5 linked regions of the Homo sapiens genome follow. The protein of the gene in region 3 interacts with the protein of the main gene of each other region in a biochemical or structural test. Each region holds a gene or a part of one and is shown on either strand. Other genes may lie near its edges. The genes, in order: MAP3K7, IKBKB, PPM1B, PPARG and SIRPA.

The links.
Region 1: the proteins of PPM1B (region 3) and MAP3K7 form a complex in vitro, tested with the Homo sapiens proteins (one study listed by BioGRID).
Region 2: of the proteins of PPM1B (region 3) and IKBKB, one has a biochemical effect on the other in vitro, tested with the Homo sapiens proteins (one study listed by BioGRID).
Region 4: of the proteins of PPM1B (region 3) and PPARG, one has a biochemical effect on the other in vitro, tested with the Homo sapiens proteins (one study listed by BioGRID).
Region 5: the proteins of PPM1B (region 3) and SIRPA form a complex in vitro, tested with the Homo sapiens proteins (one large-scale study listed by BioGRID).

What each region holds. Positions count from the first base shown.
Region 1 is NC_000006.12:90,511,317-90,517,572, forward strand, and holds the end of MAP3K7 (mitogen-activated protein kinase kinase kinase 7), read right to left. Parts: intron 5,366-6,256; coding exon 5,185-5,365; 3' UTR 2,263-5,184; downstream 1-2,262. UniProt on the Homo sapiens protein: Serine/threonine kinase which acts as an essential component of the MAP kinase signal transduction pathway. Plays an important role in the cascades of cellular responses evoked by changes in the environment.
Region 2 is NC_000008.11:42,319,802-42,326,057, reverse strand, and holds part of IKBKB (inhibitor of nuclear factor kappa-B kinase subunit beta), read right to left. Parts: intron 5,324-6,256; coding exon 5,214-5,323; intron 4,163-5,213; coding exon 4,113-4,162; intron 4,005-4,112; coding exon 3,905-4,004; intron 3,712-3,904; coding exon 3,564-3,711; intron 772-3,563; coding exon of another isoform or gene 733-771; exon of another isoform or gene 697-732; intron 89-696; coding exon 1-88.
Region 3 is NC_000002.12:44,226,123-44,232,976, reverse strand, and holds the end of PPM1B (protein phosphatase 1B), read right to left. Parts: intron 2,985-6,854; coding exon of another isoform or gene 2,976-2,984; exon of another isoform or gene 2,565-2,975; coding exon 2,259-2,564; 3' UTR 1,505-2,258; downstream 1-1,504.
Region 4 is NC_000003.12:12,379,570-12,385,825, forward strand, and holds part of PPARG (peroxisome proliferator-activated receptor gamma), read left to right. Parts: intron 1-134; coding exon of another isoform or gene 135-142; coding exon 143-362; intron 363-1,752; coding exon 1,753-1,922; intron 1,923-6,256. UniProt on the Homo sapiens protein: Nuclear receptor that binds peroxisome proliferators such as hypolipidemic drugs and fatty acids.
Region 5 is NC_000020.11:1,910,928-1,917,183, reverse strand, and holds part of SIRPA (tyrosine-protein phosphatase non-receptor type substrate 1 isoform 1 precursor), read right to left. Parts: exon of another isoform or gene 2,862-6,256; coding exon of another isoform or gene 2,783-2,861; intron 2,086-2,782; coding exon 1,729-2,085; intron 1-1,728. UniProt on the Homo sapiens protein: Immunoglobulin-like cell surface receptor for CD47. Acts as docking protein and induces translocation of PTPN6, PTPN11 and other binding partners from the cytosol to the plasma membrane.

The sequences.
Region 1 (6,256 bases), on a different chromosome or scaffold from region 3:
AGATGTCTATCACATTTTAGATGGATATTTAGTTAAGGACCTTTGTAGGAAACTGATTAAAAGCCAAAATGGTTCTAGAGCATGTGATGAGGGAATACCACCATTAATTCTACAACCAAAGTTACACCCAGTTTCAGGTTTCTTCAGTCTCTAGTCTGAATTTAGTAAATGAGCCAATCGATGATTAATGTAATCATTCCAGTAATAACTAAAGAAGAGGTATCCACAAATAGAAACACGCAACAAGTCTGAAAAGTAACTGCATTTTGTAAGTTACTTTTGCTTTTCAGAATATAAATATCCAGCATTTACTCAGTAATTTCTGGTGCTTTCAAAGCAATGATCCTGCTGCTACATGGCACTGATAAGATATCATTAACCATTAAATTAAAGGAAAAGTAATGCCTTTCATGACTTGGAAATTTGAAAGTACCATGACACTCAAATACAGTTAAATAGCCATTCATTTCTCAAAAAAGCTTCATTTAAAAGTGGTCTTATGTATTTTGGAAGACTCAAGTTATGCATAACATAGAACCTACTGATTTAAAGGCTGCCTAAAGTAACAGATGGGCAGGTCATTTAAACTGACGTTCCATTTTGGTGGAAATGCACGGCAGGGGGTGTCAGAACCTCCAAGACCAGTGTCTAGTCATGGATGGAAAAGGAGCATAGAGCCTGGTGTTAAGTGTTACATGATCTGCCAATGCAAATATTATTTCTGCGTGCACCACCATATCAGGAAGGACCACTGACAGCATCTGTATGAGATAGTGTCAAACATTTTTACAAAGACTATCTTCACTGTTACTGAAAATATTGTTTTGCCAATTGTTCTGTGGCATAACAACCAACCTAGTCTTTGCTGGGATTTTGAGCAAGCAGAAAGCAGCTGCAACTTAAAAAAATAAAGAAAAGAAAAACAACAGAAAACTTAAAATTCCTCTCAAAGGAATTACAAAAACTATTCAAGTGGGGGAAAAGGCTTAAGAAGTAAAGTGTACATATTTTAGGATTTCATTTATGTAAAACTGTAGAAAATGCAAACTAATCCATATTGTTAGAAAGCAGATCAGTGGTTGTCTGGGGACTGGGGTGAGAGAAGGGCTCAATTGCAAGGGGCAGGAGGGTACTTTTGGGGCTGGTAGACATACTGAGGATGTTGACTGCTGGGGTGGTTTCACAAGTGAATACATAAGTCAAAACTCTGTAAGCAGCACACTTTTACTTAAATGCTCACCAAATTCTGAGGTGATTTAGCTTTCACACTGACTTATTTGGCAGGTAGGATATCTGCATTTTAAAAAACTGGATGCAGTTTATCATATATGAATTATACCCCAATTTAAAACAATGCAGATCTCCCACCTGCCAAATAAGTCAATGTGAAAGCTAAATCACCTCAGAATTTGGAGAGCATTTAAAATTACAGCATGGCAAATTTGTTTAGATCATAGACTTGGGTTTTAAAAGACATGGGGGTGGGTCTCCATGTTGGCTTTGTTGCTATCTACAGAGCGGTCACAAAGCCCCTGCATCTTCTAGTTATAAGTTATCTCGTTCTATTCCTCTGTTTGCCATTCAATCTAAGATTTTTCCTATGCTCTTCTTCGCATCATGGACTAATAGTGGCCACAGTGTCCCCATGCATGAGATTCTGCCTGAAACAGATGATGATGGAAAAGCAGACTCAGGCAGAAGTCTTAACCTTTAGGAGCCTATTTTCCCATCTGTAAGATGGGAATACCATCAAACTACTGTGTGACTGGAATGGACATGTAACTTGGTATTGGTAATAGCAGTGCAGTTTATAATATATGATAAACAAATATTTATTAAAAGAATGAGCAAATGAATGGATGGATTTACTAAAATGAAGGTAGAGTTTATAAGAATGTGTGCATATGTTAGGGTTGGAAAGCCAGCAGGTTGATAAAGGAATGAAATACCTAATTTAACTTAGAAATACTCTAAGAAATCAGCTTTCTGATGAGAAGAATCACTTAGCAATGTATGACGTGTTGTGCTTCACACAAATTAGGACTCATGAAATTGTGAAGAGCTCCATTTAACACAAAATTTTGAAATGCAAGAGATGATGTGTTAACTGGCCAATTACCCAGCCTCTTAAAAACCATGATTATCGTACAAAAGTGACATTTCAGTTTTTAGTAGGTTCTGTGTAAGGTAAACACGGTGCTAGAGCAGAACACTTCGCAGCTCATTTGCTGATACAAGTCATTCACCACTTTTATGTACCAGTTTAGAATAGGAATCTGAATTTTATTAAAAACAAAAATAAATCTAAAAAGCTTCCTTCAGTTACAAATATGCACAAGAATTTCTGCATTACATCATTTGACATAAAATGTTCTGAATGACAGAAGTAGAAGTAGAACTTACTACCATTTGAAGACAGGAGTTGAGCGCTGAAAACCACACACATTTATAGAAAGAAACCAAAGTTTCACAGGGAAGACCTGTGATCTCTGGCTACAGGAGCTGAAATTAGGAACATGAAAGAAACTTGAAGAGAGAAGACATTCAATACTCTAAAATACTTCAGCAAAAATAGTCAAACATCCGTAAACAACTTGTAACAAATCTTTATATGTTGTGTTGCTATGCGGTAAATATTCTTAACTGATTATTATTCAACTCAAAAAAGTGATTTTTATTGCTCACGAATACTTCCCTCTAGATTAGATAAAAGCTTGCTTTCTTTTCCTGGAGTCAAGAGTAAAATGTAATTAATGTAATTAGGGCTTACTCAGTGATTGTTTTTGAATTTCTTAGACTGGGGCATTCCAGCCACTTGCTTGGCTGTTTGCAATTTTCACCCAAAAAACGGTCAAAATAAATTGTAAAACCAGAACGAATAAGTTTGGCTCCTTGTTAACATTTTTATTTGCAGGATGGATGAGGAAACTGATGAAACTGGCTGTGGATTTTAATTATCCCTGGTATCTTTTTCTCCCATCTCCAAGGATCATCAGGACTTAAAAGCATGAAATTGACAACACAACTACTTAAAAACAGAGTAAGGCTGAACTGTACTCAATGTCCAGGGCAACTACAGTACTGAAAATCTCAAGGAACTTACTGTAAACAAACAAGCAACTGTTCAACAGCCTCTTGCATTTGGTACCATGACTAAAATCTACTATTTTCTTCCATTTACCTATCTGGATATTTTTATGAAATGACTACATGTAAAAACCATAATAAAATTTCCCTTAAATGTGTTATAATACAGCAAAACACATCAATGACTATAAATAAAATCTGAAATCTCGAATGCTAAATCCTAATGGAAACATCAAGCCTTAGCATTCACGCTTGGATATCTCGTGCTGAGATAAAAGGCCTCTTTAAAGTGACTAGGTCCCTTTCAGTGGAGTGACAGATGTACATACAAGCAACAATGCTATGGAGGAGTCATGCTTTATCCTAGTCTACAGTTATTTTCTCTGCCAATTTTATTTTACTATTACTATGCTGAATCCAATATCTGTTTCAGCTAGGTAATCAAATTTGGGAACAATTAACACTCCTTTTATTTAAATTAAATGACAGAAGACATTTATTTCCAGGAAGCTTTCTAAAATAGCTTTTGAAGAAGCTAAAAATAACAGTTTAGTATTCACCTGTATTGCTTGTATACACAAGGAATTCATTACAAAACTCAGTGGTAGGAGGAAAAAATAATGGAAGAAAAAGTTACCTGCTTTAGCATTTTAAAGAATAGTTTTGATAACTTCTTAGATCTTGCTTATCTGAAATAGAGCAAAAACTACAATACAGTCATGATAGAATTCTAATAATCACAGCAATTAATGCTTTCATTTTGAACTTTTTCTTCATAAAACATTAATGCTATAAAAATCAGACTGATGACATCCTTATTTAAAAGACATCTTGTACTGGTATCAAAATGTGACTTATTTTAACACCAACTGAAAAAATATAGAGTTTGTATAGTCTATTATTTCAGTGTCATTTTATTATTAAAGTTATTCTGAAGGTTTTGGTAGCAAAATTACTGTTAACAATATAAATACTCTGTAAGTGTTGAAATTCTCTTGAAAGTGTTGAAAGGCGGCAGGCATTCTAGAACGGGATTGTAAGGAAAATCAAATATTCCAATATCCAGGATAATTAGGACACTTGTTGAATTTATATTTGCTTCTTTAACTTCCTTCTGATTTGCCTGGTTTATTTCTCATTTGGTATCATAAAAAGAAATCTAAGTCCAAGCTTTTTTTAGCTGGAGTAATTACTTCCATTTTCCATTATTTTTCTTCATTTTTTTTTTTTCAAATACATGAGAAAACAATCCAAGAATCACTGCAGGAAGAAATGATCATTTAAGCTCAATCATGTTCTTTTGCCTTTTAATTTCATTTAAGAGATTAATATTAGAGTCATAAAAGCTTTACAGTTTCAACACACATACACACAATCACAGAATTAAAAATCTTTACTCCTTAAAAAAAAATGAGTTCCATTTTGTTCAATGTATCACAATCAAATTTTAGTCTAACAAAATCCGGTAAAACTGCTTTCATTAAATAGAGCAGCTGCCACTTACCTTTACATATTTTACGGATGGAACTGAGTTCAGTACTGATCCAAGGATGCTGGCATCAAAGCCCTTACACGGAACTATCCCTAAAGGTTCCGTATTTCCGTAATATACCACCAATCACTCTAAATTTATAATACCCTGTCTTTAACTTGGTATATACCATCTTTTGGGAAAAAAATTATTAATATTTTGAGATGAGATACAAGAATAAAGTCATTCTTGAGGTTCCACCTCTAATATGAAAAAATGGACGCTGTTTGCACATAGCAGCTAGTTTGATACCTCCTGTTCTGTTAGGCTAGCCTTCACACAATGAGCATGCATATACAGCCACAGTTCACTGCATCTGTTTTGAAGTTGCAAAGTGCTGCTCATTCAAGTCACAGATGCTACCATGTTATGCAATGAAACAGTAAAATTGTATGTCCACCATGAGAAAAGGAAAATAAACAATGAAAAAAATGCAGCAAATATAGGCAGTTGGCATTCAGAACACGCCAAAAAGCTAACACTCATGAATCGTCATTATAAGGTTTTCCTTTCCTTAAAAAAAAAGTCTTTCTTTGCATATTTCAAAATGTAACGGTCCCAGAGAATCATGAAGTGCCTTGTCGTTTCTGCTGCTGACTTCTGATGACCTCTAGTTGTTTTTTGCATTGCTGGTAGTAAGTAGAAAGGCTTTTGTTTTCATCTAAAAGCTTTTTATGTTCCTGTACCAGGCGAGATGTATTTTGCTGGTCCTTTTCATCCTGGTCCAGTTCTGCAACTAGTTCTTGCCTACAAACAAATACCACATAATATTACACATGATGGAAAAATTCATACCTTAGTAGCTGATGATGGAAGCTCAATTAATGAGAATTTTTATTCTTGGTTTATCATTTTGCATCTTAGGTACACTAATCAAATATAATTATGGGCTGGGATGGAACTCTCATCTACTTCTAGTGTAATCATACAAATAACATAATCCTTTTATTAAGTAACTGTACTTGGATAATTAGCGAAGCAGATAAAATGGTAAAATAAAAGTTTCAGAAAATTTCATTTTCTATCCTCTTTTTGTGTAGGAAGGATGAAAAAAGGCTGGGAAGGGTTCTATGTGGCTATGGGAAAATATCATGAAGTTTTTATCCTTCACATTCTACTTTTATACTGATTCACATTCTGAAGTCACAATCCTACTTAACTATAGCAGAGAGTGGTAAGCTAATAGCAAATTTGCAATCTAATTAAAATAAATGCTATCCAATTTAAAGCTTTTTCCCATTTTAAAGCAGTGAGAAAAATGACAAAGTACCACTTCTTTTAAAACACTTACATTTGCAAGCACTTTCAGGAAAGACCCTCATTCTTTTATAGTCTGATAAACTTATTTAAGTCCCTCTTATTTGGGAACTATTAAGTATTCCCGAAAAAGATGCATCTTTAGGCATTTCCTAAAGTGAGGTTACTGGATATAAATGAATAATTAATAAAAAGTCCTCAAGCAAAATAACTAACTAATACTACTTCTGAAAGTATTTAAAATTGATTAAAACTGTCATAGTTTTCACAGCCAACACCCTAATCCACCATTTGTTTTTTCCAGCATAGAATACTTCTTTCAAATGATTAAAGTATGGCAAAAGTATAGGTTAAATAAGTGAAATAAGAAATCAAGCTTTT
Region 2 (6,256 bases), on a different chromosome or scaffold from region 3:
AGGGCTGAGACATCAGCTGCCCAGGCTGGCTAAGTCGAGAGGCATTCATGCTATCCGGGCTTCCACTGACAGGACCACGGACCTTGCTCTAGGGGACAAAATCAAAAGAAATTAGGAGCCAAGTGATGAATCACATTTTGCATTCACGCCACAGTATTTTCTTAGGAGACAACTGGCTGGCTGCCAGAGGCCAGAGCTAACCCTACAGCCTACCAGTTGGCACCCCCACCTGCGGGTCAACTGGTGCTTCACATCTGGCTTCAAAAGTGTTTCTGTATCAACGGAGACTTTTGAGGAAAGGATTCTAAATTTAAGGAGACCTGGGTGCCTACATTAATTTGCAGGCTTTTTTATTTTCATCAGCTTTACTGATTGATTATGATTGAGAGTCTTGCTCTGTCGCCTGGGCTGAAGTGCGATGTGCGATCTTGGCTCACTGCAACCTCCACCTCCGGGGTTTAAGCGATTCTCCTGCCTCAGCTTCCCAAGTAGCTGGGATTACAGGTGTGTGCCACTACACCCAGCTAATTTTTGTATTTTTAGTAGAGACGGTGTTTCACCATATTGGCCAGGCTGGTCTCGAACTCCTGACCTCAGGTGATCTGCCTCAGCCTCCCAAAGTTCTGGGATTCATGATCCACTGCATCCAGCCCCTTAATGAACTTTTACAAGAAAAGAACAGGAAAGTATTCTTACTGTTTTCCAGGTAGAAGACAGACACACACACAAAGGCTATGGGAATTCCTGTGGCTTGCATCCTCTATGACCTGGCTGAGAAGAAACAAGGACACCCTGACTCCCAAGGGGCTGCAGCCACTGCCCCTCCCAGCCCGAAGGGTCAAGCAGGGGTTCCCATTCCAGCTACCTGAGCCTCCTCAGCTCACAGCCCACGACCGCCGGCCAATCTTCAGGTCACCCCTCTGCTGATCTCTGCCCTGCATGGTCCCCAACCCACCCATGTAGCCCCCCAGGCCCCACACCTGACACTCACTTCGGCCTGCAGTCCTTCATCCCCTCACGTGTCCCTCAGGCCGTGGAACCATCCTGGCTCCACATCCTCCCCTCCAGCGAAACCTCAAGGCCCACACATCAAGAAGCCATGTTAAGCACCCAAGCCTCCCGTTCCTGGTCCTCCTGCTGCACCTTCCCTGCTGACCATGCCTGGGGAGAGGCCCGGCATTGGCCTCCTGTGCTTCTGCCCTGGACCGAAAGTATGGCAGGGGATGGCTCCTGCACTGCCTGGCTCCCTCCCAGCCAGGCCCTGCCCCAGCTCCTGCCCCACCCTGTTCTGTGCTGCACAGCGGCGGCTCAACTCCAGCCTTGCTGAGCGGCCCTTCTCAGTGCTGAGGTTGGCCAGGGACTCAGATCCTCCAGCTGCCTGGAGAGGGACTTCCCCAAATCCCAGATGTGATCATATCCCTACACTCAAGTTCCTTTAATATCAAGGGAAAAGACAGATACTGCCATGTGTCCTGTGTGCTTTGAAAATGGACATAGGCCAGGCGCGGTGGCTCATGCCTGTAATCCCAGCACTTTGGGAGGCCAAGGGGGGTAGATCTCTTGAGGCCAGTTCGAGACCAGCCTGGCCAACATGGTGAAACCCCATCTCCACTAAAAATACAAAAATTAGCCAGGTGTGGGGGCATGAGCCTATAGTCCCAGCTACTTGGGAGGCTGAGGCAGGAGAATCACTTGAACCCGGGAGGTGGAGGTTGCAGTGAACTGAGATTGAGCAGCTGCACTTCAGCCTAAGGGACAGAGCGAGACTTTGTCTCGAAAAAAAAAGAAAATGAAGCGTGGCCCACGTAAGCTCACCCTTGCCTACCTCAGCAGCTTCATCCTCCATTGTGGCCTTCCCCACACACACCAGCCTGTCCCCACTCAGAACACACTGACTCCCCAGGCTCTCTGCCTTTGATAAAGCAGTGTCTCTGTCCTGGAACATCCTCACTCTTCAGCTGGAACAGCTCCTTGTGAACCTTCTTGTTGCTCCCTCTCCTCTAAGACAAGCTGGAGCTCCCCCTGTGCACAGAAACTGCAGCTCATGCCTCCTGGAGCTGCTTCCTAGCCCTTCCTGCCCTGAACGGCTCTCACTCATGCCTCTGTCTGTGCCCCTTGAAGGATCAGGCCCTCCTGGGAACAGGTGCCATGCCTTCTCACCTGTGTGTCTTGCTGGGCATATAGTTAGCATTCAGTAAATGCTCAATGGATGTAGATGGCACATCAGGCTATCACCTGCGCATACCTGCACCTCCCTCTCCTCTTCAGATCCTCTCTACCTCGTCATCCTGTTTTCTCCCGTTCCTCTCTTCTTACAGGAGGATGTGTCAATCACGCTCCCAAGGCATGCTCAGTGCTCTGGCATGCGACCCCAGCCCCTCTGTTCTCTGCACTGTGTGTGGATTGTCCCCTCTGCCTTTGACAATGAGAATCTCCTAATGCACCATCTCCTGCTTCCACCATGAGCAACCATCTCCCTCTCTCCTTCCCTTTGCTCTTAAGGGAAACTGACACCTAAATCACTCTTTCATCCATGTCACCTTCTCTGCAGCCTTTCACAATGGGGCTTGCAGTCCCAACAGCTCTGGCTCCCACAACACGGCCAGGCCTGCCCGTCTCAGTTCTTGGCTGTTTTGTTTCCCATTTCCCCACCATGTGGCATCCCATGGACTCACAGCTACGTTAAGACGGTGTGCACAGAAAGCGTGGCTTACTGCACTGAGGGCAGTGCAGACGCAGACGATGGTCAACCAAGTTGCACTGCCGTGCATGACGGTGGGCTGAATTGGTGGCCCTAAGAAGGATATGCCCACATCCCAACTCCTGGAGCCTGTGAGTGTGACCGTACTTGGAGAAAGCGTCTTTAGAGAACCTGAGATGACATCACCCTGGACTACTTGGGTGGGACTCAAATCCAATGACAAGTGTTCTTGTAAGAGTCACCCAGATAAGGGACACAGGGGTCCCATGAAGACAGAGACAGAGACTGGAGTCACACACCAAAGAACGCCTGGAACCACCAGGAGCTGGAAGAAGCAAGGACAGTCCCTCCCCAAGAGCCCTCAGAGGGAGCTCAGCCCTGCTGACACGGGACTTTCAACTCCTGGGCTCTAGAGCTCAGATAACACGTTTGTTTTTGTTTTTAGTAGAGACAGCTCTGCTGCCCAGGTTGGAGTGCAGTGGCATGATCACAGCTCACTGCAGTCTTGAACTCCTGGGCTCAAGCAATCCTCCCACCTCAGCCTCCCCAAATTGCTGGCGTTACAGGCATGAGTCACCATGCCTAGCCCAAATTTCTGTTGTTTTAGCCCCTCAGTTTGTGCTAATCTTTACAGTAGCCACACGAAAGTAATACACAGATGAATGAAAACAATTAGCACAGGCCCTTCCTCTGACCTCCCCGCTTACACCAAGTCAAAGAACAGCGACGTGAAGCCCGAGCAGCAGCTGAGTGGGCTGCTGGTGGCTCTGTGGTGTCCCGTGTGGGATGGCGGCAGTGCACAGAGGTGGAAAGGCACAGGAGGCTGCTAGGCCAAGGGCCCGGGACCACAGCACTCACTCACACAAGCAATCTTCAGGAGATTCCAGAGCTCCTTCTGCCGCTTCTCCTGCAGCCGGACAACAGTCTTCTCATCCTCATTCATTAAGCTCACCACCTCTTCCACCTTGGGCAACAGTTCCAGCGCCTTCTGCTTGCAAACCACAGTTTTACTGCAAAGAATAAACATGGCAAACTAATGGCATTTGGGCTGGAGAAAGCAGAACCTGTGGCAGCTGTGCATCCAGTCAGCAGCTGCAGAAACTCTCTTCATGAGGTCCAGCGAATCAGAGAGGAGGGAGGAAGGTGACCTCATACCTGCATCTCCCAGTCCTTCCTCCAGAGCAGGAAGGTCGGGGCTCATACCTGAGCTGCGTATAGATCACTCGCACTTTCTTCTCGAAGCTCTGAATTGCCTGAAGCAGCAGCCGTACCATTTCCTGACTGTCACCCTCAGTTCGCTGGTCTGGAGAGAGGGAGGGTAGCATAGTTCCTCAAGGAAGCCAGCAGAGAGTAGTGATGCCCCATAAATGAGATAAGGAGAAGCCCAAGGCAGACACAGAACCCCACTTACCTCGAGGTTTTTCCCTTAGTCTCCTGTACAGCTCCCTTGCTTGCTCCTCTCTAAAATATACAAAGAAGTTCTGTCTAGACTTGAGGTCAAATATGGCTAATTTTTACATTTTTTTGGTAGAGGTAGAGTTTCACCATGTTGCCCAGGCTGGTCTCGAACTTCTGGGCTCACAAGCAATCTTCTTGCCTTGGCATCCCAAGGTGCTGGGATTACAGATGTGATCCACTGTGCCCAGCCAAAAACATTTTTTTTTTAAATTAGCTGAGCATGGTGGCATGCGCCTGTAGTCCCGGTTACTTGGGAGGCTGAGATGGGAGGACTGCATAAGCCTGGGAGGTCGAGGCTGCAGTGAGCTATGATTGTGCCACTGCACTCCAGCATTGGCAACAGGGCAAGACCCTGTCTCTTAAAAAAATAATACAAATACAAATAAAAGAACTAGAGGAGAATAAAGGGTTAATTAGAGAAAATACAGAATCAAAGTTCTGACATTTGGAGCTCCTGTCCTAAGAATCCTAGTGAGAGAATCAGGGAACACTGCTGAGCTCACGGTGACACAGCCCTCAAGCGGCCTGCCTGGTTCCCTCCATCTGTACGCCAGGAGCACATGTGATCTCCTTCAGGTAGGAGTGATCTGCCTAGACCCCTCCGCCCCTCATGGAGCCAATGCCAAATACCTGACAAAGACTCAAACGAATAGTTTCCAGGTCCAAACTCCTAAGCCTCATCAGGTTCTTCCTTCTCTGTTTTACTTTCTGCTCTGAGCTATGCCTGAGTCAGGGTGGGTGGAACAAATCAGGGGAGTCTGCTACAGGGGTAGAGGCTGCTTGCATTTTACAGCCTTTACAGATTATGGCCTGCGTCTCAAATGCATTATCTGAATTCATCCTTACAACTTCGTGACTTAAGACTGTTTTTCTTGTCACTGAACAGATTTGGAAACTGAAGCTCAGTGATGATTTGCTGGAAGTGACCCCACAGGGAAGCATGCTCTAGAGAATGGTCCCGCACAGCCACTGAGGGTGCCCTTGACACACACACCGAAGCTCCAGGGCTGTCTGTGTGTGCTGGGCACAGAGGGGCCCCCCAGCCAGTACTCACAGGTCGTCCAGCGTTCCCCCCTGCTTCCGGCCCATGGGGCTCCTCTGTAAGTCCACAATGTCGGTCTGCAGAGCCATCATCCGTTCTACCAGGAGTTTCACTTCGTTCTCCTAATGGAAAAGCTGTGCTAATGTCAACTGATGTGGTAGGCGCATGCTGAGATGCAAGATCTGCGGGGGAGCGAGACCAGGGGACCCGCCACATTCCCTGAGGACCCTCAATGGACTGGCTCAAAGGAATGTGGACTGTGGGGTCTGAATGGCTGCGCCTGCATCTAGGGTCCACCGCTTTCTAGCTGTGTGACCCCTTGGCAAGTTACTTACCCCCAGCTACAGTTTCCTTTTGCATAAAATAGGCTTCTAACAGGGCCATCTGAGGAGTCAAGTAAGATGAAGTACTTAAAGCCTCTGGCATGGTGCCTGGCATACAGAAGATGCCCAAGACACATTACTTTCTCTTCTCTTCATCTGTCTATCCTGATGCTACCCGGGCAGGGAGGCCCAGACTGTTTTATTTCACAGATTATGAGTCCCAAGATGGGGAGGAGCACTCAGCCCTTCTATGGTTAATATTCACCATTAAACACACATATACTCCATCAGTACTGATTCATAAAAATCGATACTAAGACACAGGTGAAGATCCTTGCCCAAGTACACAGGGGAAAACAGAGGATAAGTCCAGGAAAAAGCCCCGGAGCCTGACTTCAACCTTCAGTTTGTGTGAGGTTCATTAAGTCACATGTATTTCCTTTGCCTTCATAATTAACTTTTTTTGGTGACATCTGATTTACGCTGCCCTGAGACTTTCTGCCTAGACCTTTTATTTCCTATGGATTTAGCATCCCAACAAAATTAGTCAAAAACCTTCGACAAGAGGGAGTGTTGATCATCCATCCAATGCCCTTCCTAACAGGAAATGGTCTTGGCTTTTCCCCAAGGGAACCTAACCCTTGCTTCTTATTTAAACCTGGACCATCTCTGTCCATTCATGCAGCTCTTGCATCTGGCCACAGAGGGGCTCCCTTCACTGGCTACTCTCTT
Region 3 (6,854 bases):
AGGGTTTATAATATTATTCCCAAATACACTTTATCTTGAAGCAAGGCAACATTACAATTTGGACATTATTGGAGAACCCAGTTTGGTAATACAGGTAAAATTGGAAAAAAATTAAATAACAATCAATAATAAATACATATCCTATAGAAATTGCTCAAATGAAATTCCAAGCCACAGAGCTGCAAAAGGCTTCCAACTTGGTGAACTGAAAAAAGGAACATATCATACAATTCTTTACTCTTACATGCTTACATGTTGTGTGTTTTGTTTAAAGAAAAAAAACATAATGTATTTTCAGAGTATAGCTAACTATATTTCCCATGCACCTCAGGCACATTGTTGATTTGTGGTGAAATAACTCCACTGGTTTCTAGGGCCGAAAGTTCAATACAGATGTAACGAGTATGCCTGAGGTTGGCAAAAAATACTGTAGTACAGGCAATGCTACAAGTGGCAACTGTCAGAAAACACAAATATGAACAAATGATGGGAAATGCTAATGATTTTCTGCTCATATCACAAAACGTTGGGAATCCGCAAGAATATTTTCCCCTTGTATTGAAGAAAATTGTGATTAAAAGTTTTTTCCCCCAATTTTCAGAATCAAAAGCATTTTAGAAGGTTTTTAAGGCTACCATGGGTCTTCTAGATCTCCAGCACCCTACAGGAAGAGAAAAGGAAGAATATTATTATTTACCTATGCCACTTCCAGATTGGATTGAATTTCAAAAGAAAACAAAATTGATGAACAAATTACCTTCCTTTCTTTGTCTGAAAAGGGTACTTTTACAGAGAGATGTTGTGTATTGCATATTGTGTGTGTACACGTGTATCTAATATGGATAGATAACTGGGTTGGGTTATTTTCCTCCCCTCTCCATCAAATGCCTTCCTTTCTCAAAGCACTTAAAAATATTCTGGCATTGGAAAAATACATCAAAACATCAGCTATAACATCCAAAGATTCCGAAGTTTCAATTTATGGTAACTTAAAGCAACTTTAGACACATGATATAAATATAAACGTAAAGACGAAAAGTTAATGTTCTACAGTTATAAAATAATTTTTAAAAAATATTTTTCCCTATGTGACAAATCTATAATTTAAAAATCCCTTTAAACAAAAACTCTCATCTGCCACTATTTTAAAAATAGCCCATAATTGTTCAATTTCTTAATAACTAACAAAAATTTGTAACAAAATGGACAATTCTGCAATCTTTAAAATGCTCACTGTGGCAATTTTCTCACATGTCTAATGTGTGCCCATAATGTCCAAAGATTAATATTTTGTACCACAAAAGATGGATAAGAAAAAGAATAGATTTAAGTATGCAACACATATATTTTAATATTAAACTTTTCCTTTTTGTTAATGAAAAAAGGTAAGCCAAAAGTGTTCTAAATGTTATATAAATACAAATGAATTTCTAATGGGTATTCTTCCAATATACCAAACTTGGTTGTTTTTAAAAAATTAATTCAAAAATAAGTACAACATGCATAGATTATTCCACATCACATGCTTTATTTGGACTTAAACACTTATAATTTCATTCTAAACACTTGGTTGACATACATTTTGATGTGTGTAGTTAGGCTATACAGAATATACAAACCAAAGCTGTATGAATAATACATAGGTTTTTCAAAAGTTATGTTTCATAAAGAATACAGAGAAAGGAAAAATAGCCACACATCCAATATCTCACAACTTCTAAAAATAAAACTACAGAGATGTAAAATATAAACAAATCAAACAACACACAAATTATCATCCTTGAAAGAAAAATTACAGGCCAGCATCAGCCATTCTTTGAAGAACTAAAATTATTAAAGAAAACATAAATTTATTACAAAGCTAACTATGAGTGTACTAATAGGTAAAATAATATGAAGCAGTATAATTCTACATTAACAAGTTTTTCCATAATATAGCATAATCTCTCTAATCAAAATTTCTAATTCTATCTAGTATTAATTTAACTACTGACTTTAATTCATAATTGGTAGCCTAATTTCTGGCATACAATGTGAAATGACATATAATTTCATTAAATCCATAGTACTATAAATAGTCAATTTTACACTATCTCATAAAGGTGTATGCAAAGGCCTTTTTAAAAAACAAGGCTATCTGAATATAATAAAACTAGTTTTCCAAGATTCAAATAACAAAACAGTTATATAAATGCATACATTACACTTCCTAGGTTAAAAACCATCAAAGATCACAAAAATATTACCAAAAAGGAAAGTCATATTTTTTCACCACTCATCTTTGTCCCTGCATCTTCATTAGAGCTGTCTAATTCAGCAAGACCACTTTCTGATTCAGTATGGCTTTCCTGCATTGTCACTGGGTTTCCAGCATCACTGTTCGAAGAAGTAGCTGTGGCAGCTGGTTCAGCAGGGCTTTCTTCTCCCTCTACTTTAGCTAGCCTGTAACTAGTCAGCATCTCCTCCAGAAGTTGTCGGTAGTTTCCCCTATGATTAATTCTCATTTGCCTGAGAGCTTCCACCAATTTTCCCTGTGATCCACTTTCCTCTGCTTCATCGGAGGCCTTTTTTTAAGATTCAAGACCCCAGTGTCAGTAGACAAACTAGGATATCACATGTATTTCATAACACATTACAGCAAAATACTAATTTCTCTACCGAAAAGTAATATAGTCTAAGCATGAGAACATTTTATTAAATATCAATTCTTACCTGTATCAATTAATAAAAACTTCCAATAATAATCTCAAGTCATTTTAAGCAAATTACCATTAACTAGTTTATGTCTTATTTCACAGTCATTTAAAGTTTAATCTGAAATTTACTCAGCTTTTATAATTCAACAGCAACACAAGCATTTCCTAAAACTGACTTACTTAAACAATATTTGGCTATATGATTTAGTACAAAAGAAAATCAATGTTTAAAGCAGTAGGAAAAGGACAGAAAAGCAGGCCATCAGAACAGTTTCTTCATCATTTCTGCTAAATAAGTAGGAAATACAAAACATAAAACTATATAGATTTAAACAGATTTTTGAAAGATTTTAGAGTTTTTACGGATAAAAATTGTATTTACTTTTTGCTCTTATTTTGATAAAAACATCTCTAGATAAAAATAAATTAAGTATTCTCAGTATGAATAATAAACTACTCAATCCTTTCATATTTTAGTGAATTTTGGAAAATCTACAGGTTTCTACAATAGTAACTACTTAATACTGTACAGAACAAGCTCTAATCATCCAAGCTGATCACAGTTAAGCCGACAGACTAAAATAAAGATATCTTTACAGTATGTGCCTCTTGATATGATGCATTATAAAGTACAGTCATGTCCTGTATTCGTGCCAAAAAATGTTTAGAATGAATCTAATAATGCTAATTCCCAGTTTACAGGAAAAAAGGGAATAGAGGATCAAGTTAGAGCACACATGAGAAAACAATCATATGAATTCAGAATGCAGGACGTATTGTAAAAAACTGGCTCAGATTCTTCAAAGTCAGTTTCAAGGGGAAAAAAACAGGTGAGGGGCTTGACTGATTAAAGACTTGTTTAATGTGCTTGATTGATAAACTTGATTAGACTGGGATTCAAAATAACAATTACAATAGTCACTCTAGTGACAACTAGGGAAATTTAAACTTGATATTCAATATTATACAATTTATTTTTTTATACACCTACAGTGTACCCACAAAAATTAAAAATAAATTTAAAAAAATGAATTTTCTTAGGTATAATAATGGTATTATGGTTATACAGAAAAATGTCTTCGTTCTTTTTTTTTTTTTGGGATGGAGTTTCACTCTTGTTGCCCAGGCTGGAGGGCAATGGCATGTTCTCGGCTCACCACAACCTCCACCTCGAGGATTTAAGCGATTCTCCTGCCTCAGCCTCCCGAGTAGCTGGGATTACAGGCATGTGACACCATGCCCGGCTAATTTTGTATTTTTAGTAGAGACAGGGTTTCTCCATGTTGGTCAGGCTGGTCTCGAACTCCCAACCTCAGGTGATCTGCCTGCATCGGCCTCCCAAAGTGCTGGGATTACAGGTGTGAGCTACCGTGCCTGGCTGAAAAATATCTTCATTCTTAAGAGCTGCATGCTTAAATGTTTACAGGTAAAATATGATGTCTGCAATTTTCTCTCAAAGGGTTCAGTCAAAGAAAGAAAAAAAACAGTAGATATAAAAAGAAAAATAAAGCAACTATGGCAAAATGTTAACAGTTGTTGAATCTAGAGAGACAATATACAGCTGTTCCAACATATCATATCCCCTTTTTAAATACATTTGGAAGTTTTCATCTTAAAATATTGGGAAAATAAAATACAAAATAGGTTATTGATACAGTTGATGTGACACAAACTCTTAACCATCTTTAGAGACTATTACATATACTTTTGCAACAAAGATAACACTAATAAAGCCATATAATAAATGGCAATGTTTTATTAGAAAAATGAGAGCAGATGAATGTTATTTTTTAAAAAGTTGCCCTCATTGGCCAGGAGCAGTGACTCGTGTATGCAATTTCACCACTTTGGGAGACGGGTAGGAGGATTCCTTGAGGTCAGGAGTTCTAGGCCAGCCTGGGAAACACAATGAGACCCTATCTCTACAAAAAATGTTTAAAAGGAACACGCCCATAGTCCCAACTACTTGGGGAACTGAGGCGAGAGGTTGAGCTAAGTCGAGGAGGTTGAGGCTTCAGTGACCCATGACCATACCAATGAACACCAGTCTGAACGACAGAGTGAGACCCTCTTAAAAAAAAAAAAAAAAAAAAGGGCTTGTTAGGCTGAGGCGGGTGGATCACGAGGTCAGGAATTCAAGACCAGCCTGGCCAAGATGGTGAAACCCTATCTCTACTAAAAATACAAAAAATTAGCAGCACGCAGTGGCAAGTGCCTGCAATCCCAGCTACTCCGGGAGGCTGAGGCAGGAGAATCGCTTGAACTCGGAGGGCGGAGGTTGCAGTGACCCGAGATCGCACCACTGCACTCCAGCCTGGGTGACAAAGTGAGACTCTATCTCAAAAAAAAAAAAAAAAAGAAAAGAAAAAGAAAAAAAAAGTGCTTGTTTTCCTGCCTCAGACGGGGTGGTGGTGGGGATGGGGCGGGGAAGTATCCTCATGGCAAAAAATGGATGATACTGGGCCGGGCACAGTAGCTCATGCCTGTAATCGCAGCACTTTGGGAGGCTGAGATGGGTGGATCACCTGAGGTCAGCAGTTCGAGATCAGCCTGACCAACATGGTGAAACCCCATCTCTACTAAAAATACAAAAATTAGCCAGGTATGGTGTGTGTGCATCAGTAATCTCAGCTACTCGGGAGGCTGAGGCAGGAGAATTGCTTGAACTCAGGAGGTGGAGGTTGCAGTGAGCCAAGATCACACCCACTGCACTCCAGCCTAGGCGACAGAGCAAGACTCCATCTCCAAAAAAAAAAAAAAAAGATGATACTGTGTATGGCCCATGCTTTTTGGATACATATACGTCTGTGTATCTGTTCATGTTAGCATATGTAAAAATACCTGGAAAGAAAGGAAATACAGCAATATAATGATAATGGGTAGGGAGTTCTAGATACTTTATTTTCTTTGAATTTTCCAATTTTCCACAACAAGCATATTAGCTGTCATTTAATTGCAAAATTTATTATGTGGACTTAAAACATGTTTCCCTAAATAAAGTTTCTCATCCAGGGCTGGTGGCTCATGCCTGTAATCCCAGCACTTTGGGAGGCCAAGGTCAAAGGATCACTTGAGCCCAGGAGTTTGAGACCAGCCTGAGCAACACGGGGAGACCCCGTCTCTACAAAACAAAAATTTAAAAAATTAGGTGTGGCAGCACACACCTCTGGTCCCAGCTACTTGGGAAGCTAAGGTGGGAGGATCACTTGAGCCCAGGAGGTTGAGATTACAGTAAGCCATGTTCATGCCTCTACACTCCAGCCTGGGCAATGGAGGAAGACCCTGTCATTCATTCATTCATTCATTCATAAATAAATAAATAAATAAATAAATAAATAAATAAATAAAAAGTTTCCCATTTTAATCTATTCAGGAAGGGTTGAGATGGAACAACATGTGATAAGTATACTCTAATGATAAACCTTGTCAGTCTTTAAGAGGAAATTTTCTACTTTACGGTATATCACAAAGACCTTTTAATGCAGGGCCTACAACCCTCTTCCCCCGAAAACCCCCAAACCAAAAAAAAAAAAAAAAAAAAAAAAGATAAAAACCTACCATTTTATTAAAAAAAAATTACAGGACATTAAAACAAAATCTGCTTCAAAGATTTACACATAAAGTGATTATCAACCCTTGCTCCACATTGGAATTACCTGTGGAGCTTTTAAAATTGCACACATGCCAAAGTTCCATTTCAAAATACACAGATTCAGTGGATTTGGGTTGTTCTTTTAAAGCCTGACAGGTAATTCTGATATACAGCCAGGGTTGAGAATCACTGATATAGACTAAATGGCATGACTCAATTTGGAGGTGGACTTATTAATAAGGTTGGATGAAAGGTTGTTCCATTTGTCGTATTTGGGTCAATTTTGGCAAGTTCAACAGATAAAGTACCTCTCGCTTTCCAACTGACACTTACATTATTAATCACCTGTATTTCTGTGAATTGCTATAGTAGTGACAGTTGGGGAAGAGAAGTTGCTTTTTAAAAGATATACTAGGTCGGGCGCAGTGGCTCAGGTCTGTAATCCCAGCACTTTGGGAGGCTGAGGCAGGCAGATCATGAGGTCAAGAGATGGACACCATCCTGGCTAACACAGTGAAACCCTGTCTCTACTAAAAATACAAAAAGTTAGCTGGGCGTGGTGGCGG
Region 4 (6,256 bases), on a different chromosome or scaffold from region 3:
TTCTTTTCTGTTGTTGTGAGCGCCCAGATGAGATTACTTTGCCAAAGACTCTTTTCATTTCTCTTTCTGAAACTCTGTGAGATTGCTGTGTTCTCTAGGACTTAACTTCACAGCTAGTCTATTTTTCCTTTCAGAAATGACCATGGTTGACACAGAGATGCCATTCTGGCCCACCAACTTTGGGATCAGCTCCGTGGATCTCTCCGTAATGGAAGACCACTCCCACTCCTTTGATATCAAGCCCTTCACTACTGTTGACTTCTCCAGCATTTCTACTCCACATTACGAAGACATTCCATTCACAAGAACAGATCCAGTGGTTGCAGATTACAAGTATGACCTGAAACTTCAAGAGTACCAAAGTATGATGTTTATTTTCACTTTTCAGACTACTAGGACTAGAATTGGACTCATCTCTCAGTAACCCTGTAATAAATAATGCTCCAGAGACTAGAAATCTAATAGAGAAGGCATTCACCATTCATTTATTCACCCATTTATCCATGAAATATTAGGTATCTATGAAATGCCAGGAAGGGAGCTGGCACGAGGTCAATCTTGCCTTCCCCGCCCCCTCCTTCCTTCCTCTCTTCTTTCCTTTCTTGCTTACTTCCTTCTTAGGGACATTTTCTACCTTGATTACACTGTCAGTTGTATCTCAGGCTAAGAGTCCATCATCCAAACTTTGAATTATTTTGGCCCCTTATAAGTTAATAAGTAACAATTCCAAGTCACTTTGTATTATATAACTTATCTTCACTATATTACTGCTACTACAGTACATTTTTTCTAGTATGTCCTTTCAGGAGTTTATACTGAAACCTACTTTTAAGCACAAATTTGTTTTAACATTGTAGCCTATTGATAAATTTTCATGCCATTAACTAAATCAACATCAAAACATCAGACTCAAGAAAAACTAGAACTGCACTTTTTGAGATAAAATGTATTTCTGTGATGCTATTTCCTTGATTTTTATCATGTGTGGGCTGACATGCTGGTTTTCCAAAGCCACCACTATGTAATTGGCAATCATTACTTGACAAGTAAGAACTTCCTGTATTTCTAGTGGCTTTTAAAGATAAATAATATGCTTAGTTATATTTATCTATGCGGTTTTCAGTTAGAGCCTAATATGGAAATTTAGTAGCCCTGAGCCCAACTAGTAAAAGGTAGGGCTTACTTCCATAAGTTCCGCCACGCTCTGTCAAAGATTATTTCACAAACCACCTCCTTTGACTGAACACTAATGGTAACCTGGGCTCATATTTTTCATGCACCTCAAGCTAGGCATACCATGACCTTTTCACAGTGGTGTTCCTTCTGTGGTTCTTTTGCAAGTTGTTTCAAAGTACTTATAAAATGGAATATTTAAATAAAATGTATAATTTAATATTGTGATGAATACCAAAGACAGAACATTTCCTAGCAAAATAAGCTTCCTTGTCTCAAATCCTCTATGTTGTCTGTTACAGCTGTAGTATTGCAGGCTACTGGGGGTCATAGAACCACAGACTTAATTCTCATTCCCATTTTATATTTACAGGTGAGGCTTAGAGATGTTATAACTTGCCTGTGATTACAAACCTTTCTTTTTCTTGCCTTAACTCCAGTGTTTTTTCATGTTCCACTGTGCTTTTACACTGAAACAATACAAATACAGCATGAAGGTGTACTATGGTGGCTTGCCCTGTTGCCTTTTTAGGACTGTTTTCATGGGATAATTATCCTCTCACATGTCTCCATACACAGGTGCAATCAAAGTGGAGCCTGCATCTCCACCTTATTATTCTGAGAAGACTCAGCTCTACAATAAGCCTCATGAAGAGCCTTCCAACTCCCTCATGGCAATTGAATGTCGTGTCTGTGGAGATAAAGCTTCTGGATTTCACTATGGAGTTCATGCTTGTGAAGGATGCAAGGTAATTAAAAAAAAAGTCTTCAAAGAAATTGTTGAAACTTTATTATTTCATTTCAGCAGAACCCCTTTTTTAGGTGATACAATATATGAATTTTTTTTCTTCATGGAAGAGTATCTTGCTCTGTCACCCAGACCAGAGTGCAGTGGTGCTATCCTAGCACACTGCAGCCTTGAGCTTCTGGGCTCAAGTGATCCTCCCACCTCAGCCTCCCAAAGGATGATATAAGATTTGAAAGCCTAAGAAAGTGGATAAAAGTTGGGCTGCTTTGCCCCACATTTGTTTCTCCAAATTGATTCTTTGAGACACTGATCTAATTTAATCCTTGCATCTTGCAGATTTTTACAAAAAGGTGACTTCTCCAAGGTGTCATGGCAAGACAGTGATGACCTGGAACCAGGATGCAGATTTCCTGCATTCTCTAGTTGTTTATTTATTTATTTATTTATTTATTTTGCTATACCGTGTAATATTGTATAGACAGAAGATTTTACAGATTATTTATATATGCATATCTTTGGATCCCTAGAGCAATCCTATAAGATTGGACTTCTTTATGGCCACATTGCAGATGTAGAAATTACAGGTTAGTAAAACTTGCCAAGGTCATCCCTTAGTAAGTGGCAGACCGCAGTCTAGACCCTGACTCCTTAGGTGGTGTTGGCTCTCAAAGCAGTGCCTCATGTTTCCTTATTCCAGCATCAATGTGAGCCACATACACGGACAGGTAAGGAGGTATAACAGTGTGGGAAAGGAGATACTATTTATCCTCATCTCTTTCCTTTGTGAAAAGGGTATTTTGGAAAATTCAGACGTTTAGTAATTTATTGCTTAATTATTAAGAAAATATGTGAATCCACTCATATTTTGATATGCAGTCTTTTAAGATAATTTTAATATACACAATGCAAAAATAGTACTAATTTATTATATACGCATTGCACAGAATAAACTGTTCATAAATATTCACTTTATAAAATAAATACCTGCTTATTGGGCTTTTTATTCAACGTAAAGATACAGAACAACAGTTAGGAAAGTTTTAGGACATCTTGGTTCCTAAATGGATGGTGGGCCAAAAAAGGAAACTGATTTTTATTGAATTCTTACTACATGCCAAATACTGTATGAGGTAACGTTTTCATACATCAGTATTTAACCACATCCTACCCAGGTTTTCTCATCTATAAAATGATTGTGGCTGAGTGTGGTGGCTCACGCCTCTAATCCCAACACTTTGGGAGGCCAAGGCAGGAGGATCACTTGAGCCCAGGGGTTCAAGACCAGTCTGGGCAGCATAGTGAGACCCCATCCCTACAAAATTTTTAAAAAATTAACCAGGCATGGTGGCACATGCCTGTAGTCCTAGCTTCTTGGGAGGTTTAGGTAAGAGGATCCCTTGATCCCAGAAGTTCAAGGCTGCAGTGAGCTATGATCATACCACTGCACTCCAGCCTGGGTCACAAAAGCAAGACCCTAACTCCAAAAATAAATAAATAAATAAGTAAATAAATAAAATGACACTGAATTACATGATCTCTAAAGTCCCTTCAATTGAAACAGTTTTTACTCTAAAGGCAACCTAATACAGTGAAAAGGGACAAACCAGAGGTCAGCTCTGCCACTTTCCAAAGTCATTAGCCAGTCACATACACATTGTATCCTTCATCAGGCCCCCCATATGTAAAATGACTTGGTTAGATTGGCTACACAAGGTCTTATTCATCTCTAAGTTCTGTAATTTCAAAATGACACTTTGAAACACTCTGGCAAGAGATGCTTTCATTTAAAACACTAAAACCCGTTCGTTCTGTAATTTAAACCAAGTTAAAATATTTATGACCTTATATGAAATCATTGTATTAAGTCAGTTATCTAAGATCTTGATGAGTAGTAAGAACATGTCATTTTATTGACTTAGATTTTTTATTGAATGTTTTGTGGTTTTATTGAGTTTTATTTTAGATTTAATGAGTTAGAGTTTATTTTTACTGAGTTGGATACCATTTTTGAGTGAGTAAACTGTTGCTAAATTCTGAGCCATATTTATCTGAAGAAACCATTCTGTTTTGGTCATGTTGATAATTTACAACTATAAATAAATAAAAACAGCATGGTTGGTTTAAGGTTCCACAATAAGTTATTGTTTTTTATGGGCTAGTAAAGCACTTAGAAAACTAAAACTTTTAAGCAAATAGTTCCACCATAATCCTATTAGTCACAAATTTGTGGAAAGCTAACATTACTGAAAACAGCTGAAAATGGAAAGACAAGAACATTGTCAGTAGTTGGTTATAGTGATAAATCTGAGTTCTGAGGGCACTAAAACTTAAAAGCAAGCAGGGAAGAAGAGTAGCAAAAAGAGAAGAGAGAGGAGGAAATCCAAGTGCCTTCAACTTAGGATTAGAAAGGGTAGAAAGCAGGGAGGGAGAAAAAATACTTAATAAAACCTGAAGACTCTAGGGGAGTCCTTAACCTATCATAGATTAAAAAGCAAACATAGAAGAAAACTAAGCGTATTGTATACTAACCTGCAGTAATTTGCAAACCATCCAAAATGTGGATTCCAGAATTCCTAGACTAAAATGTAAGGAAGGTTTTACTCCCTTGGAAAGGGAAAATAGACATCTACACGTTTTAAAGGTAAGAATAAGAAAAATATTATTCTTGGAAAATTTAAACATTTAGTAATATACTACTTAATATAAAGAAAATATGTGAATCCACTTATATTTTGATATGCAGTCTTTCAAAATAATTTTAATATACTCAATGAATAAAATAGCATTTATTGTATACTGATTGCACAGAATAAATTTTTCATAAATATTTACCTTATAAAATAAACCCTGCTTCGGCTGGGGTTTTTATTCGGCGTAAAGATATAGAACAGCAGTTAGGAAAGAATTAGGACATCTTGATTCCTAAATGGATGATGGGTCGAAAAAGGAAACTTTTTTTGAATTCTTATTCTGATTTTTATTGAATTCTTAGTATGTACCAGATACTATGTGAGGTACATTTGCATATATCATTATTTAACCACATCCTACTCAGGTTTTCTCATCTAGAAAATGATTCAGATGATATTGGTAGGATGTGGTTACATAATGAAACATTATCATTTGGCTTCTTCAAGTATACATCAGCAGTTCCCAAAGTGTGGTCTGGGGCTTGGACCCTTTCAAGGCATCCATGAAGTTGAAACTATATTCATAATAATGATTTTTATTACTTTTTTCACTTTCATTCTCTCAGGAGTGTATGTGGAGTGTTCTGGAAGCTACATGATGTAGGATGATGACATAGCTCTGGTAGCTAATGGAATGTTTGCTTATGTGTTCTTGTATATAATAATTTCTCAGTTGTAATTTCTAGTGTGATAAATGTCAGTAAAGATAGCCCACATAAACAAAATCTCTTTGGGGTCTTCTATAATTTTAAAAAGAGTAAAGGGATCTTGCAACCATAAAGCCTTCAGTCTCATTCTGAAGAAATGCAGTTACTCATTCTTTGCTACTTTGAAACTAGACAAAATTGCTGCCACATTCTGAATACTGCTGCATTAGACCAGTGGCTGTCAGTAAAGACATCTCCTTAGCTTATAACCAATACGCAATAAAAAGCCAGGAAAATGGAATTAGCAAATGTGTTTAACTCATCTGCATGTATTTTCTGAGAGGTGTTTTGGAAGCTTCACATTTGCTGTTGTAGTAAAATGTGGGTTATATTCATAATTAAAATACAGTTGACCACAAAGCTGCAGGCTTATCTATGGATTGAAAAGAATAAACACAGCATAAAACAACTTTTGGTAGATCTTCCTAAACAATTTTACAATGTAAATGGAACAGGTTTATATTAGTGATTCTTGCCAAAAATTCAGTCAGACAGATGAGAATGAGTAGATTGGGTTTGAATTAAGGTGAAATAGTTACAGATTCTTGGGTATGTTAATATTGCAAACTTATGTAAAATAAAACCTTTAGCAACTGAAAGATATATATAATTTAGAGCTTGGAAAGCTATCATTTATTTGTTGTTTACATGTTGGAGATATATTTTTTTCTTTGGTAAGTTCCATCCTATTTTTTATCTTTAGTGAAAGATCATTTTGGAACCATAGCCGTACCTAAAGATATAAGTAAATACAGTCTACCATACAATACAATGTAATCTAAGTTTGTATTTCTGTATACAAAAGAATGCCGTATGCTTGTTAGCCACTTGTATGTCTATTCATCCCTACTTCAGAAAGAGTTTTAATTCTTCTCACCTGCCAGTCGTAGCTTATTAATCCAACTTCCAGGGGCCAGACTGCTTCATGGGAAAGCCAA
Region 5 (6,256 bases), on a different chromosome or scaffold from region 3:
GGATCCAATCCAGCTGCTGCTCCCTGGCCCCCTCCCACCTCCCTCCTTTCTCATCCAGGGCATCATTTAGGCTGACAGCATGGCAAAGAGGAGTGAGCACTCTGCTAGGAGTCAGCAGATCTGGGTCACACCTGAGCCACGTATTTGCTGTGATTGTCTAGGCACGAGATGCATCATCTGGGAACTTCAACGTCTTTTCCTGTAACATCTGCACAATCAGGATAAAGCCACCCTCCCTGCCTATGTCCAGCGGTTGTGGGGAGACTTGATTGTTATAATGTCTAGGAGGGAAATTAGGCCATATCCACACACATTAAAACACACACCCCCTCTGATCTAGCAATGGCACTTGCAGTGGGCGTCTCCCACCTGAGTAAGGTCACACATGTATAAGGTCATCCACTGCAGGACTGTTTTAATAGTTCAAGTTTGGGGACAAGTTACGTATCCATCAATGGAAGATGGTAAAATAAATCTGGTATTTCCATAAGCTGGAGTATTCTGTAGCTATTACACAATGGAGCAGGTCTCTATCCTGATATGAAATCTCAGTATCAAATGATATGGCTTACATTTGGGAGCGGTTTTCCAATCACCAGTGGGCCTAACGGTCTGAATGTGAATATTCTGAACCTTTAGGAAACTGATGGAAAGGAGAAGTGCTGGCTTCCTGCTTAGCAGTTCTGTTCAAGGAGCTTTCAGTCGGCACCTATGATGCACCAGGCTCTTCTATGTAAACAATGGCTAATGAAGGAGCCTCCCTGGAATCAGATGTGGGCTCTGGTCCAGATCCTGTCACTAACTGGGCCTATGACTGTGGACAAGGCCCCTGTCATCTCCTGACTTCAAGTTTCCACCTGTAACTAGGGGTTGGGCTGGATGGTCTGAGGGTCCTTCCTGTACTAATGTCCCAGGATTCGGAGTTAGAACAAGGATCCTGGGGCTCTGGCAGTAAATACAAAATGAGCATCTTTGCTGCCTTAACGGAGGAACCCAAAGTCACCTAGAAGGGAGACCTCCTCCCTGGGGTGAGAGACATTCTATGATGACCCAGCTTTGTTCAGAGCCTTTAGTGACGCATGAATCAGTCCCTAAATCACACAAGTGTTTTTCTAAAAGACCCACAGAAAATGCCCAACCCTCTGGCTTCTCCTCTCACCAGGGCCATCAGATTAAACAGTAAATCTGTGCCTTTTAGGAATCTTCTCAGTTGGTGTTTGGTGATGAAATAAAGGAAACACACCCTCTCTGCTCCCTGCCCTGGGTGGATCTCTTATTGGAAGGGATGAGAACACAAGCTTGGCGGAGCCTGGCACACAGTAGGTTCTCAGTGAGTGCCTGTCACATAGAGGAGACTCGGCTGCCCTGAGAGGGAAGTGCTCTCTGGAGGCAGCAGGTGAGGTCTGGTCCTGTGCCTGGGCAAGTCACACTATCTGTCAGTTTCCTCATCTGTGGAATGAAAGGGCTGGGTCAGCTTTGAAGAGGCCAGGGCTACACAGCCAGGCAGATGAAGGATGCAGATGTTCCCACCCTTTACCAGCTGTGGAGCCTTCAGCAAATAGCATGACGTCTTCAGGCCTCAACTTCCCTTATTTGTAAAAGGGGGAGACATCAATTCATGGAAAGGAGCACCTACCACCACACCTGATCATTGCTCAAAGAATGGAGGGTGTTATTATTGAGTTACTGTCACAAACCAGAGGCAAAGGAGGCCCACGCTGTACTCACCGCGCACAGACAGCTCAGTGCCTGCTCCAGACTTAAACTCCACGTCATCGGGGCTCCCTTTCCGGAACTTCACACAGTAGTAGGTGCCGGCATCTGCTGGGGTGATGTTACCGATGCGGATGGAAAAGTCCATGTTGTTTCTCTTTGTGAGGTCTGAAACAGTTGTTACCCGGGGGAAGTGGCCTTCTTTTTGATTGTAGATTAATTCCCGGCCTGGTCCAGCTCCTCTGAACCACTGGATGGGCCCCACAGGGATCAGAGAGGTCGCAGTGCAGCGCAGAGTGGCTGTCTCTCCAGCTGCAACCAACACGGACTTGTCAGGCTGAATCACCTGCAGCTCCTCCTCACCCGCCACTCCTGGAAAGGAGCACAAAGCAGTCATTTTTTCATCCTTACGTGATCCTCTGTGTTTCCTCAAGTGTTTATCAATGACGTTCATTGACTGGATGCACACCAGAAGCAGGCTGTGAGATCAGTATAGTGCATGTATCATCTCATTTGACCCTCACAACAAACCTGCAACATGAGCCTGTATTCTAAGTGGGGACACTGAGGCACAGAAAGCTAAATGACATGGCAGAGAGTGGGTTTGAATGCCTGGACCCTCTCTGGAAGAGTCACATCTGAGCTGGGCTAATTCTAATCTGAATGAGCCAGAAGGGAGCCTGGTATTCCAGACAGAGGGAACAGCCTGGGCAAAGACTCAGAGGTAGGGGCCTGGCATATCTGGGGCTGTACAAGGTGTTAAGATTCTGTTTCTGGCCTGGCCCAGGATGCAGGCCCCGAGAAGGGAGGCTGTACTCAGCGGTTTGGGCAGTAGGAGAATGTAGTTTGAGTTCTGGATCAGTGGCCTATAGCTGTGTCCTTGGGCCACCACTCAGGTAACCAAGAATATCCAATGTAGACTCGTGCCAGTGTGTTTGAGTCCCCACCTGGAACCCAGGACTGAGCCTGGCTAGCAAAGTGTCACACAAATGCAAGAGCTGCCCTTAGTTTGCCCTTACTGCTCTCAGCCTTGGTTTCTTCATCTGTAAAATAGTTACTATGACCCCACCTCGATGGATCTCTGGGAGGATAAAATAAGCCAAGGCTGGGGACAGCGTCCAAATGCAGCATCTGGTCTTTAGAGTCATCGGACCTGGTTTGAAACCTGGCTCGCCCCTTGTTCTTGTGGGACCTTAATTTATCCATCAGTTTTGAGTCTCAGTTTTCTTATCTACAGGATGGGTAGAACAGCCCCCAGGCCTCTGCTTTGTTCTGAAAAGAAAACGAGATCACACATAGAAGTCACTTAGCCCTGAGATGGGCCCTGAGGAAGTTGTTGTTACTATACATTGAATAAACAAGGAGGTGGCTGTGGCTCAAACTTCACTCTCACCAACACCTGCTGATGCCCTGTGATCCAGGCCTCACTGTGATGGGGACACACTGGAGCTGGACCCAGTCCAGGCCTCAAGGGCTCCCAAATGGGCAGCTGGAAGGAATTGTAGAGGTTGGCTGCAGGAGCCTGAGCCCCAATCAGAGACACTGGGGCACACAAGACAGGGACCCTGGGTGGAGAGATTGGGGTGCACGGGGGGAGCCCAGACAGGAAGAGGGCAGGACGAGCTTGTCATGAGATGCGTTGAAGATGGATAGGGACCAAGTGAGAACAGTTCAGAGCAAGGCAGAGCCAGGGCCTCGATTCTGAACAAGGTGAGGTACAAGAAACAAAAAAAAGAAAGATCATGATCATAAAGACCTCAGAGAAACACATGCCTGAGAGACAGACGCAGAGTGAGAGAGCGAGCTAGAATAGGGGAGAAGGAGAGAACCAGGTAGACAGAGGAGTGGCAGCTACCTGGTATGCAGGTGACAGGTGACCTGGGGCCCCAGTTGGGCTCTCCACTGACCCTTCATGTGACCTTGTCCTGCCCTGACCTGGGCCACCTTTGCCTTGTACATCAGACAAGGCTGCGGCAGATGTCCAGAGCTGCTGTGCCCCTCTGGCTCTGGCTGGGGAGGAGAGAGACCCTGTGAATTTGCCCACCAACCCATGGCCTGGCACCACCCCACTGGCAGGGGCAGGGCAGCCAGGGAAAGAGGCTCACAGACCCCTATCTGCCCTCACTGCAGGAAGCCCAGGGCTATCTGCCCATTGTCCTGCCTCTTTCTCCCATTCCCAGCCTCACCCAGTCTTGACTCTGGCAAGGGATCACCCTTGGGGCCCGGTTCTCATGGCAGGTGAGTGGAGTCTCAGAGTGCCTAAGACCACTCCACCTGCTTTGGGTGTAAATATTACCATTTCGACTTCCTTTTCCTGATCAACCACTTAAGACCTCAACTGCTTTTATTATCAGGAAGTCCAGCTTCTCATTTCATTTCCATTTGAAGTTGAACATGGCAAGATCTTCATGGCACAGGAGAAAAAAACAGAACCCACAGTGGACAGACAGAACCCACAGTGGACAGAGGCCCAGCCAGCATCAGACGGCCTGAGAGGGGTGAGGCTGGTGGCCAAATGTGTGGGAGGCCCGGGAGGCCCATCCAGGCGGGGACATCAGAGGCAGCACCAGCAGCACTGAGCTAGGAACTTTCCGGATAGGTCTGTATTTCAGCCTCGAGACTGGACCAACTGGAAAGGCTGCCTCGGGGAAGCACAGTTGCTAGGGCCAGCAGGCCTGGGTGACAGCATGGCTCCCCTCTTAGCCACCTCTGTACCCACCTTCCCTGGACCCCCATTCCATCATCCATGAAGTGGGGTTCCGGCATCCACCCCAGCACAGTCATGAGGACCCTGACACGGTGGTATGCCTGCTGCATAGGTGCTGGGTAAGTTTTAATTCTTATTCCCATTATTATCACATAGCTGTATTATTCACATATTTGATTTTCTCTGGATTGTCACATTCCCAATAGTAGGATGTAGGATCCACAAGGGACTGTTTCCAACCTCCTGCCTAAAACACAGTGTCATCGATAAAAATATGCAGAATGAATGCGGTAATGAATGAAGGAAGGAAGGATGTCGTTGGCTCCATGACCCTGGGCAAATCTCCTCTCTCTTCATGTGTTAGGTGGAGTTGATACTGGCATATCCAGGGGAGGGTGCAGGCCCGGAGCCCGGGACTCAGCCTGGCTTGCAGTTATTATTATCCTTATCAATAACACCACAAGGGGCTGTGAGTCAGCAGTTGGTGAGGGAGCAGGAGGCGCAGGAGAGGCTGCGGAGTCAGGCGTGCAGCATGTTGGAGCAGGGCTATTCTTGTGGTGCAGCCGGAGGCCTGTAATCACACCCCAGGCAGGCGACAATAAAATCTGGAGTTGTGTAGCGCTGGCTCCCCCATTTTTTTTTTAGCTCCTCTCGAGCTCTCTCCACCGACTGCAGCCAGATTTAGGCGGCTTAATTAATTAGCTAGTGTTTATAAAGCGTTTGAAGAATTTTAAAAGTGCGACGTAAGTGCCAAATATTATTTTAATCTGTGTATGTGTATGTTTTTTCCAGTAGAGAGGGGTTTTTTTTTTTTTTTCCTTGCTTGCTTTCTTTTTCTCTGCAGGTTCTGTTCTGAGAATCAGGCTTGTTAAAAATCACTCCTGGCTCTGGGTCTGGGGTCACTTGCTGGCCAAATTATTTCCTGCTTTCTCTTGCCCTCCTAGCAGAGGATGCGACTGTCCAGGGGCCTGAACCGTCTCAGGGAGAGGAGGGCGGCTGGGCAGGCATTCCCACGCACTGCCGGTGGGAGGGGAAATTGGAACATCTTTTCGGGAAAGCAGCTTGGCAGGATGAACCAAAGGTGTGAAATCTGTTCACCAGCCTTTGCTGGGCTGCTCCCTGAGGACGTAACCCCAGATATGGAGTAGGTTTCCTGTATAACGATCTTAAAGACATTAGAAAAAGCCCAGCCGGTCAATGATAGGGGATGGTTAAGTGAATTACGGCCTATCCCCTATGTGGAATTACAGGCAGCCGTAACAAGCCATTACCATGAAAACGGTGGTCATATAGAAATTTTCATGGCATCATTTTAAATAATATTGTGTTTATGCAAATAAAACCTGTTCATTGCAAGGCATTTAGAGAAAATAAGTATGGAAACAAAGTAATAATCTCACATCATACCATCAAAGATAACTGTAATCAACATTCTGATGTAGTAAAAATATGAGTGAAGAAAAACAATCTAACATCATACCTTTAGGTAACTAAGAATATGTGCAGACATTTTGCTTCATTCACTTAAGTGTCTGTATGAAAATAAAAAATTGAAAATATCCTAATATCCAAGGAAAGGAGATTGGCTGATCCCATTATGGTGAATCTACTTTCACAGCTATAGGCCAAGTCTATAGCCATGAAAATGATGGTATAGAATTACAATGGAAATGTGTTACAAGATCAGAGTCTGTTACCAAGTAGTAGATCCAGTGTGATCCCAAACTCCCAATTTTAGAAAAAAACAATGATATTAAAGATTAGCCATGATTGAGTGGTAGATTTACATGGGATTTTGCTCTTGTTTATGTTTTCTGTTTGCATTTCTTTTGTAAG